3 separate regions of the Homo sapiens genome follow, and all the other regions are linked to region 2. Evidence: fine-mapped expression QTL. A gene starts in region 2. Each other region holds a variant in brackets. All regions are shown on one strand. Distances are between the middles of the regions.

Region 1 (2,763 bases), 170 kb after region 2:
TTTATGCCTGTAATCCCAACACCTTGGGAGGCTGAGGCAGGAGGATGGTTTGAGCCCAGGAGTTCAAGACCAGGCAGGGCAGCATATGAAAAAATGTCTTACATGTTGACAGAAATGTGTTTGGTAGAAGTCAAGCAAAATGAGGCATAAGAAAGCATCATTGAATGATGATAAAAATGAGGTCCGAAGTGATCTTATTGCATGTTTTGGTCCATGTAAACTGAATCCTACCCATTTCTCCAACATGTAACACTCCTATAACTAGTCACCTTTCCACTTATACAGTAAGCTATTCAGGAAAGTGACTTGGATCTGTTAGAGTGGAATCCAGAATGTGACCCATTTCTTCCCTTTGCATTTCTTTCCCTCTTTCTGCCTCCTATCCCCATCATTTGTCTGGCTCATTTCATCCATCAGGCCTCAGCTCAACTGGCACTCCTCAAAAAGACTTTCTGTGGCTACTCTCAGGGTCCCCTCTAGTTACCTGTTTATTTCTCCTACAGTACTTTTAGAGCAAACCCTTCTTAAAAATAAACTCTAAAATATAACTGAGGGCTCTTTTTTTCAGATGCTTGACTAGCAATTCATGTTACTCATCATCTTGCTTCCAATGTTCCACCACATCTGTTCCTGCCTCTTGGATTTGGGTACAGACACCTTTCCCAGGGCTTGGAAGTGGCTTTCTAAGATTTACATTGATCAACCTAGGGTTAAAACCCTTTCAGGCTGCTGGCACTTCTGCTTGCGCTAGTGTGAGGGCTTATCTCACCACTGAAATGCTGGTTCTCCTGCAGTTGCACTTGGTGGGTCCAGTTTCCCTTTTCTGTAAGCCACAGAGGGTGGGGAAAAGAGCTCTGCCTTTTCCTGTTTCTATTCACTCTTCTTTCCCCTCTACTCCGTCAGTGTGCCACACCCCAGGCTCCTAGCCTTCTCCAACCCAGCCAAAGGAAGCCTCAGAAGACCGTTCTCATCTCCCAGTAGGCTCTGGACACTCACAAATACAATTCTGAATTAGCAGTCAAAAATACGCATATAAGTTTTGTTTACATAGAATCTCAGCTCTCTCAAAATCCCCTGTTTACCTCACAACTGGATTTTACATGTATCAACAAGCACAGCAAAATGCAAGATAATTTTTATGAAATGTAAACCTCTCTGTGACTTCTAAGGGGAGAAACGTAGTCTTTTGTTCCCATCTCAGATCCGCCAGAGTTGCCTACTTAGTTTGAATACAAATTTGAGTTACAATAAATTATCCTGAGCCATTCCAGGCTAACCACTATTTCGGTTTCCAGATCAGTCCCCATTAAACATCAAAATTGCAAGA[C/T]ACGTCACCTCAGTGGAGCCACTGCCTTGATTTGCAATGTTTGATCTGGCACCAATACAGGTTTCTTGACTTCTTAATATACTCTTTCTTATTTTTTCACTAAAATTAACAAAAATGAATTTAGTATTTTGCTTAAGTAGGAAATTGAAACATTCCAAGCGTTACGCATCTTAAATTATGTAAGTATGCAAGTATTTTTTTTCTGCTTTCTTTCATACGCATTACCACCTCTGCAGGAGAAGTAAAAGTGAAACCCAGCCAGGCGAGGTGGCTCACTCCTGTAATCCCAGCACTTTGGGAGGCTGAGGTGGGCACATCATGAGGTCAGGAGATCGAGACCATCCTGGCTAACACTTTGAAACCCGGCTCTAATAAAATTACAAAAAAATTAACCGGGCATGGTGGCGGGCGCCTGTAGTCCCAGCTACTCGCGAGGCTGTGGCAGGAGAATGGCGAGAACCCAGGAGGCGGAGCTTGCAGTGAGCCGAGATCGTGCCACCGCACTCCAGCCTGGGTGACAGAGACAGACTCCATCTTTAAAAAAAAAAAAAAAAAAGTGAAACCCAAGAATCCTCTAGCTGTAGGAAAGGAATGGCTAGAGCCAAGAGAAAATTAAACTTGACTAAAATGTGTCATATAATTTCTTATATTTCATTGGGCTATCATCCTTCCCTCCCATGAGCACTGGATTTATTTAGGAGGCTTATCATCTTACAAGTTACTTTAATACAATTGTTCCAGAAAACAGAAGAATTATTAGACTTGTATTTTGAAAAATAAGCCTCAAACTCAGCAATAAGAACCCAAATACCGCAACAATTAAAAAACGAGCCAAAGGCCAGATGCAGTAGCTCATGCCTGTGATCCCAGCCTTTAAGAGGGAGGACTGCTTGAGACCTGGAGTTTGAGGTCAGCCTGGGAAACATAGCGAGACCCCATCTCTACAAAAAATAAAAAATTAGTCTAATGTGGTAGCACATGCCTGTAGTCCTAGCTACTCAGGAGGCTTAGGCAGGAGGATCATTTGAGCCCAGGAGTTTAAGGCTCCAGTGAACTATGATTGTGCCACTTGCACTCTAGCCTGGGCGACAGAGTGAGACCTCACCTCTTAAAAAATAAAGAACCAAAGACCTTAAAAGACACATCACCAAAGAAGACATACAGATGACAAATAAGCATATGAAAAGGTGCTCCATATCATATGAGAAATGCAAGTTAAAACAACGAGAATCCAGAACACTGACAACATCAAATACTGGTGAGGATGTAGAGCTACAGGAACTCTTACTCATTGCTGGTAGGAATGCGAATTGGTACAGCCACTTTGGAAGACAGTTTGCCAGTTTCTTATAAAATTAAACATATTGTTACCATGTGATCCAGTAACCACACTCCTTGATATTTACTCAAAGAAGCTGAAAACATGCCTACACAAA
Region 2 (2,763 bases):
TATAGTCATTGATAAATTATGCCATGCCGTATCAGGAAATCTCCAGTCAGGCCGCGTTGTTTATTTAGCCTGCTGAGGCCTCTTGGTATGGTGTGAAGGACACCTGACTGGGCTGAAAGCTAAGTTCTAACTTTGCCCCTCTTACTAACCAGCTATGTGACTCTCCTGGGAACTTTTAGGGACTCAGTTTCTTTACCTGCAAAATGGTTCAATGCAAGACTTTAGTAACGTAATGGGAACTTTCCTTTTCCATAAAACTGGGGAATCAAGAGGTAATCTCTTTTGAGGACTGAAATCACTCTTATGTAACCTCTGGTTACATTATCATTTCCAAGTGCCTGGCACTTGGGAAATGATAACTATTCTTACTACATTTTTCTATGTTTCATTCTGTAGTAAATAAGAACTGAACCTGCATAGTAACTGTTATTTTAACCCATGACTTTCAATAACGAAGATATCTATGTCTCATTATCTATTGCCATGATTGAACAAGTTGGTATGAGAGCCGGAACGAACTCAAGTTCTAACCGGCAATGCCCGTTCCTTAGATCCTATTACCTTTGAGTGTTCATTTACTCTTGTAGGTGCCAATTTTTATAGCGAAATACAAAGTTATCCCAACACAATTACTCCTAATAGAGTTCACCGAGGCCCCAAAAGCTCTTTTTTAAAAATCATCATAAGATTTCAACATTCAAGAATTAAACTTTTGTTCTGTTGTGCTTATTCATCGCTATTTGCCCAGTTATTTAATCAGCCTGCTTCCGGCTATGGAAAAAAAAAAAAAGAAAAAAAGAAATGGAAGTCTCCTCAGGGTTAAACTCCTCTGTTGTTCTTCCTTGCAGAAATTTGAGTTATTATAGTAGAGGATAATCGTTGCATAATGAAATCATTGGGACAATTCGTCCATCCACTTCTACCTCCGCCTCTAACAATGAACTCCTTGTTTCTGCGGTGCCCAAATCTCTCTAAACCCGGGTGGGCGCGGGGCGGTTAGCGGAGACGTGGGAGAGGCCGAGAGCAAAGCTCGCGCCCTTCCCGGGGTCAGCGAGCGGGGTGCCAGGAGGGTGCGCGCCCTGCATCTGAGCCCGGGGTGACACTCGCCTCCCAAGCGCCAGGAGGGGGAGACTCGGTCCCGCTTATCTCCGGCTGTGCTAACTTCAGACTGCCTGAGCTGGGGGAGGAGAGCGCGCAGCCAGGGCGAGAAAACTTCTCCACCTAGAAAGTTTCACCTTGTCGTGGGCGGGGCAGAGGCGGGAGGAAACGCGACCCCCGCGGGGCCAGGCGCGGCGCGGACGGCAGGAAGGGCGGGGGCCGATTTCCCTCTGGGTGGTGCCAGTCCCCACCTCAGCGGTCCTCGGAACCCGCGGACTAGGGGACGGACAGCACGCGAGGCAGACAGACACGTGCTGGGGCGGGCAGGCGAGCGCCTCAGTCTGGTCGCCTGGCGGTGCCTCCGGCCCCAACGCGCCCGGGCCGCCGCGGGCCGCGCGCGCCGATGCCCGGCTGAGTCACTGGCAGGGCAGCGCGCGTGTGGGAAGGGGCGGAGGGAGTGCGGCCGGCGGGCGGGCGGGGCGCTGGGCTCAGCCCGGCCGCAGGTGACCCGGAGGCCCTCGCCGCCCGCGGCGCCCCGAGCGCTTTGTGAGCAGATGCGGAGCCGAGTGGAGGGCGCGAGCCAGATGCGGGGCGACAGCTGACTTGCTGAGAGGAGGCGGGGAGGCGCGGAGCGCGCGTGTGGTCCTTGCGCCGCTGACTTCTCCACTGGTTCCTGGGCACCGAAAGGTAAAATTGCAGCCCCTTTCAGATCCAGTACCCAATCCCTCGCCTCAGGGGTTCTGCTTTCTTTGTTCCCCTAAGAGACCTGACTGCTGTTCCAGGGGGCAAAACCACGTAGGTGGGCTAGAGTTTAGGGGCTTCGGAAACTGAAGAGACGTGGCCACGGCGAGGACGAAACTAGAATGGGGCTTGTCTTTTTAGGGGGTTGCTTCTGATGGCCACCTGTATGACTTAGGAGGGAGAGGGGCGCTGGGACAGTGGGTGATGTGTGACTGTTACGGCCCAGCAAGTTTTAAAGCTGGGATCTGACTCAGCCCTTACAAAAGGGATCCGGTCATCCTCGTCCCACCGTGATGCAGCTGGCAAGGTTTGAGCCGAGCTGTTTCCTTGTTCCCAGCCTTGCTTTATCTGTGTTATGTTGGGGTCCTTCCAAGGGGCAGGTGTTTCTGTGAAAGTCTGAATTCATTTCTGGCAATCACGCGGGGCTTGTGATCCATCAATTTTCCATCGTACCTTATCTCTTTCTGGGGCTTGTGGTGGACATCTATCTTATTAGGTGAAATAGATTATAACCAGAGGCTGAGCGATGTGGCCAGTCGTAGTGCTGACCCGATAATTAAAGCACCAGTGAAAGTACTTTCCCTGACTATTGTCAATGCAGAATTTACTCCGAAGTACGGTTTCCCATTCATATCTTTCATGTTTTAAAAGAGCCATTTGCTAATTTGGCAGTTGGAGAGGGCTCCAATGGCTCACGCATGAATAGTTGCCCAGTGTATTTTACCTTATCACAGTTTTATGTTCAAAGGAGCCCTCGGGCAGAATGAAATATTGTCAACTCTCTTAGGCAAAATAATCAAGATACTTTAATTGCTATGTTAAGATGGTCCATGAATGTGAGAGGATTGTAAGAACTGACGTTGGAGGCAATATAGACTATCTGGACCCTCTCTTGAATTTTAAGAAGACTGTTCACATTCTGTA
Region 3 (2,763 bases), 93 kb after region 2:
GCAAAATGCTCAAGACTTGAATTATTCATAGCTCCAGTCACTAGAAACAGCAAAATATTTATCCTTCAACATGTTGTTAAAACATTTAGAATTTTTTTTCCTGAAAGATGATCTGAATGCAAATATGAACAAACATAAAGCAATAGGATAGTCTTTATTTGGTTGTAATATAGGCTTTCATGGGTCATCTCCATCTAAGTAATAATATGTTTCCATTGAAATTTTTCTGACTTTTTCAACAAAAATTTAACTGCAGCCCAACTTATGCATATGTTCACGTTCATACAAGTTTACTAACCTCATTATTGTGTTTTGTACAATAATTAAGCAAGCCCAGCATAAAATTGAATGGAAGCCCGCTTCAATGAACAGTGTGTTTACAAAAGCAAAGTTCTTTCATCTGCTTCTTTAATTAGTTTTAGAAAGGGAGAAATAAGCTTTTATCACTTCTTTTTTTTTAATAAAACTAATCTAGTGTGACCTTTTGCTTTCAACAATTACTGTGTTTGCCATTTGAAAGATTCCATTTGGTTTTTCTTGATGATAACAAAGGTTTATGTGCAAATAGTTTTACACTCACAGAAACTCTATTTTTCTGTTCCTGTATCTATGATGAAGGGATTAGAGATAAACGGTTCTTTATCTACCCTTCCAAGCACAGTCTTTATGGAAGAGAAAACTTCTCTTTCCATAAATTAAATACCCATTATTCAACATCCTACAAAATTGTTGGACCAAGAAAAACATAATTTGGCATCATCCTCGGCCTGTCAATGGTATTCCCAACATGGCGAAAGGGTCTTCTAGAGACTGGCAAAAAACACTTTATTTTCTTGCCTATATATGGAATAACTCTTTCTCTAACAAGTGTATAGCACCTGCCACGTGACAGAATAGTAATCTAGTGGGAGCAGTGGCAATTCAGGGAGATTATTTTAGTATCATGGTTCAATATTTTTTCATACTTCATTTTTCTTATGTATGAGAGGAAAGCAAAGGCATAAGAGAATATTTGTTGTGTCAGCAATCTAACTCTTTATCAATACGTTAAGTTGATCACATTAAAACTTCTACCTCTCAGCCAGGCACGGTAGCTCATACCTGTAATCCCAGCACTTTGGGAGGCCAAGGCGGGTGAATCACTTGAGATCAGGAGTTCAAGACCAGCCTGGCCAAAATGGTGAAACCCCATCTCCACTAAAAATACAAAAATTAGCTGGGCATGGTGGTGGGTGCCTGTAATCCCAGCTACTCAGGAGGCTGAGGGACGGAGGTGACCTGAGTCCTGAAGGCGGAGGTTGCAGTGAGCCAAGATGGCACCACTGCACTCCAGCCTGGGAGACAGAGCAAAAAAAAAAAAAAAAAAAAAACCACGTACTTCATCAATGAAAGTG[T/C]TCTGGAGAGAATCATGTGTTTAGAATGAGATATGCTCTTTATTGCCAGGAAGATTTCATGCTCCTCATGCAGCCATGCATGCAAGAGTTCCTAGGGTGAAAAGAGATTGTGATCATTCCCTGCCCTAGTTGTGAGAGTCCCTCAATTCATAGTAAGCCCAGTGACTACACCATGGGCAAAAGGGCGAGCCAGGTTTGGATGAGGGAACACAATAGGGGTCAAGCATAAGTCACCCCTCAGAATGAATCCTAAGCCCCATGGATGGAGAAGGAAGTTTTTGGCCAAGGCTTCAAGTCCCCCAAGAGCAGTCGTAGACAGTGGTCATCAAAAGTAGGTACCTCTTTGTGGGTATACATGACTCCCCAAATGCCTCTATCAACAACAGCTCATGTTTGTATGGAATTTTACAGTTGACACTGTACTTTGGCATATTTTATTTCATTTGAGTCTCATGTGGACCCATGAGGTTGGGAGGTCAGTGATGATTATCCCCATTTATAGATAGGTAAACAAAGGTTTAGGAAGATTAGCTGATTTGTCTTGGGTCACCCAGGAAGCAAAGAGCAGAACTGGGGCTCACACTCAGGCTTCTTGATTCCAAATTTGGTCTTCTGTCACTGCATACACTAAATTACAGTATTTCTTATATTAACTCTCATTTAATGTATACTAAAATACCATTATAGAGACACTTTTCTATCATATGCTATTTATATATCTATGCAGTTCTTTAGAGGGAATAGCTCTTAACTTTTTATAAATATCTAAAAATTTATTCTGTTTAAAGAAACTCTGTATTTCTCCCTGAGTGTCTTATTTCTGACTTTTTATGCATGAGCATATCTTATGAAAAGTAGAAAAGTATTCTGTTTCATGCTGGAACAAGGACTGCCTGACATTGCCTTGGGGGTTTATCTTATTCTGCAGCATATAGGAACATATGAGAATAAAGATGCTTCAAATGTTCAATCTGGAGAAGTCAGGTCAAACAGGAAAAAGAAGCACAGGAAGATGAGCCAGGGCAGGGAGCGGGGACTTGGTCTATGACACTGTCATCACAGGAACAAATGCTGAGAGCTCAGGAGGAGGTGAAGCATCAGTGTGTGGGCATTGGAAGGATCAAAAAGGAAGCATGGTTTTGAACCATCCTAATCCACCTGCTGCCCAGAGCCAGCCAGATGTTGTCCTTCTCCCTTTGAATAATTTATGTGCAACTCTACCCCTCAATCTCAGTCAAAACCACCATGAACTCAGTTCTGAGTCCAGACAGGATAAAAGTGAAGGGTTCTTTTTTCAGAGGTTATTTGGCCCAGTGTCGAAACCTGTTCTTATTAATGGTGCTCAACGCTTACTCTCAAACTAGTATTT

Direction of the effects. Alleles are on the strand shown, and positions count from the first base shown. SD is a standard deviation of normalised expression in the study named.
In carriers of allele T in region 1, the expression in unexposed skin of the gene that starts at base 1,404 in region 2 tends to be higher than with C alone (small effect, 0.24 SD a copy in GTEx).
As copies of C replace T in region 3, the expression in spinal cord of the gene that starts at base 1,404 in region 2 goes up (large effect, 0.83 SD a copy in GTEx).

Evidence for each region. PIP is the estimated chance that this variant, and not a neighbour inherited with it, causes the effect.
Region 1: its variant is the best candidate, but not a certain one, in a credible set for the expression of MET in unexposed skin (GTEx, PIP 0.80).
Region 3: its variant is the best candidate, but not a certain one, in a credible set for the expression of MET in spinal cord (GTEx, PIP 0.89).

The regions. Positions count from the first base shown.
Region 1 is chr7:116,842,730-116,845,492 of GRCh38, forward strand. It overlaps LOC124901731 (a long non-coding RNA gene), which reads left to right. Exons shown (of 3, transcript XR_007060489.1): 3 at 1-2,763. Among named protein-coding and RNA genes, the nearest start is that of CAPZA2, 18 kb to the right of the region's middle. The variant C/T (reference allele first, on the strand shown) is at 1,328.
Region 2 is chr7:116,670,793-116,673,555 of GRCh38, forward strand. It overlaps MET (MET proto-oncogene, receptor tyrosine kinase), which reads left to right and starts at 1,404. Exons shown (of 21, transcript NM_000245.4): 1 at 1,404-1,785. The region is part of intron 1 of COMETT (cytosolic oncogenic antisense to MET transcript); the gene reads right to left. RefSeq lists silencers at 1,012-1,061, 1,192-1,321, 1,382-1,571.
Region 3 is chr7:116,763,939-116,766,701 of GRCh38, forward strand. All of the region lies in intron 11 of MET (MET proto-oncogene, receptor tyrosine kinase), which reads left to right. Among named protein-coding and RNA genes, the nearest start is that of COMETT, 77 kb to the left of the region's middle. RefSeq lists a silencer at 172-660. The variant T/C (reference allele first, on the strand shown) is at 1,395.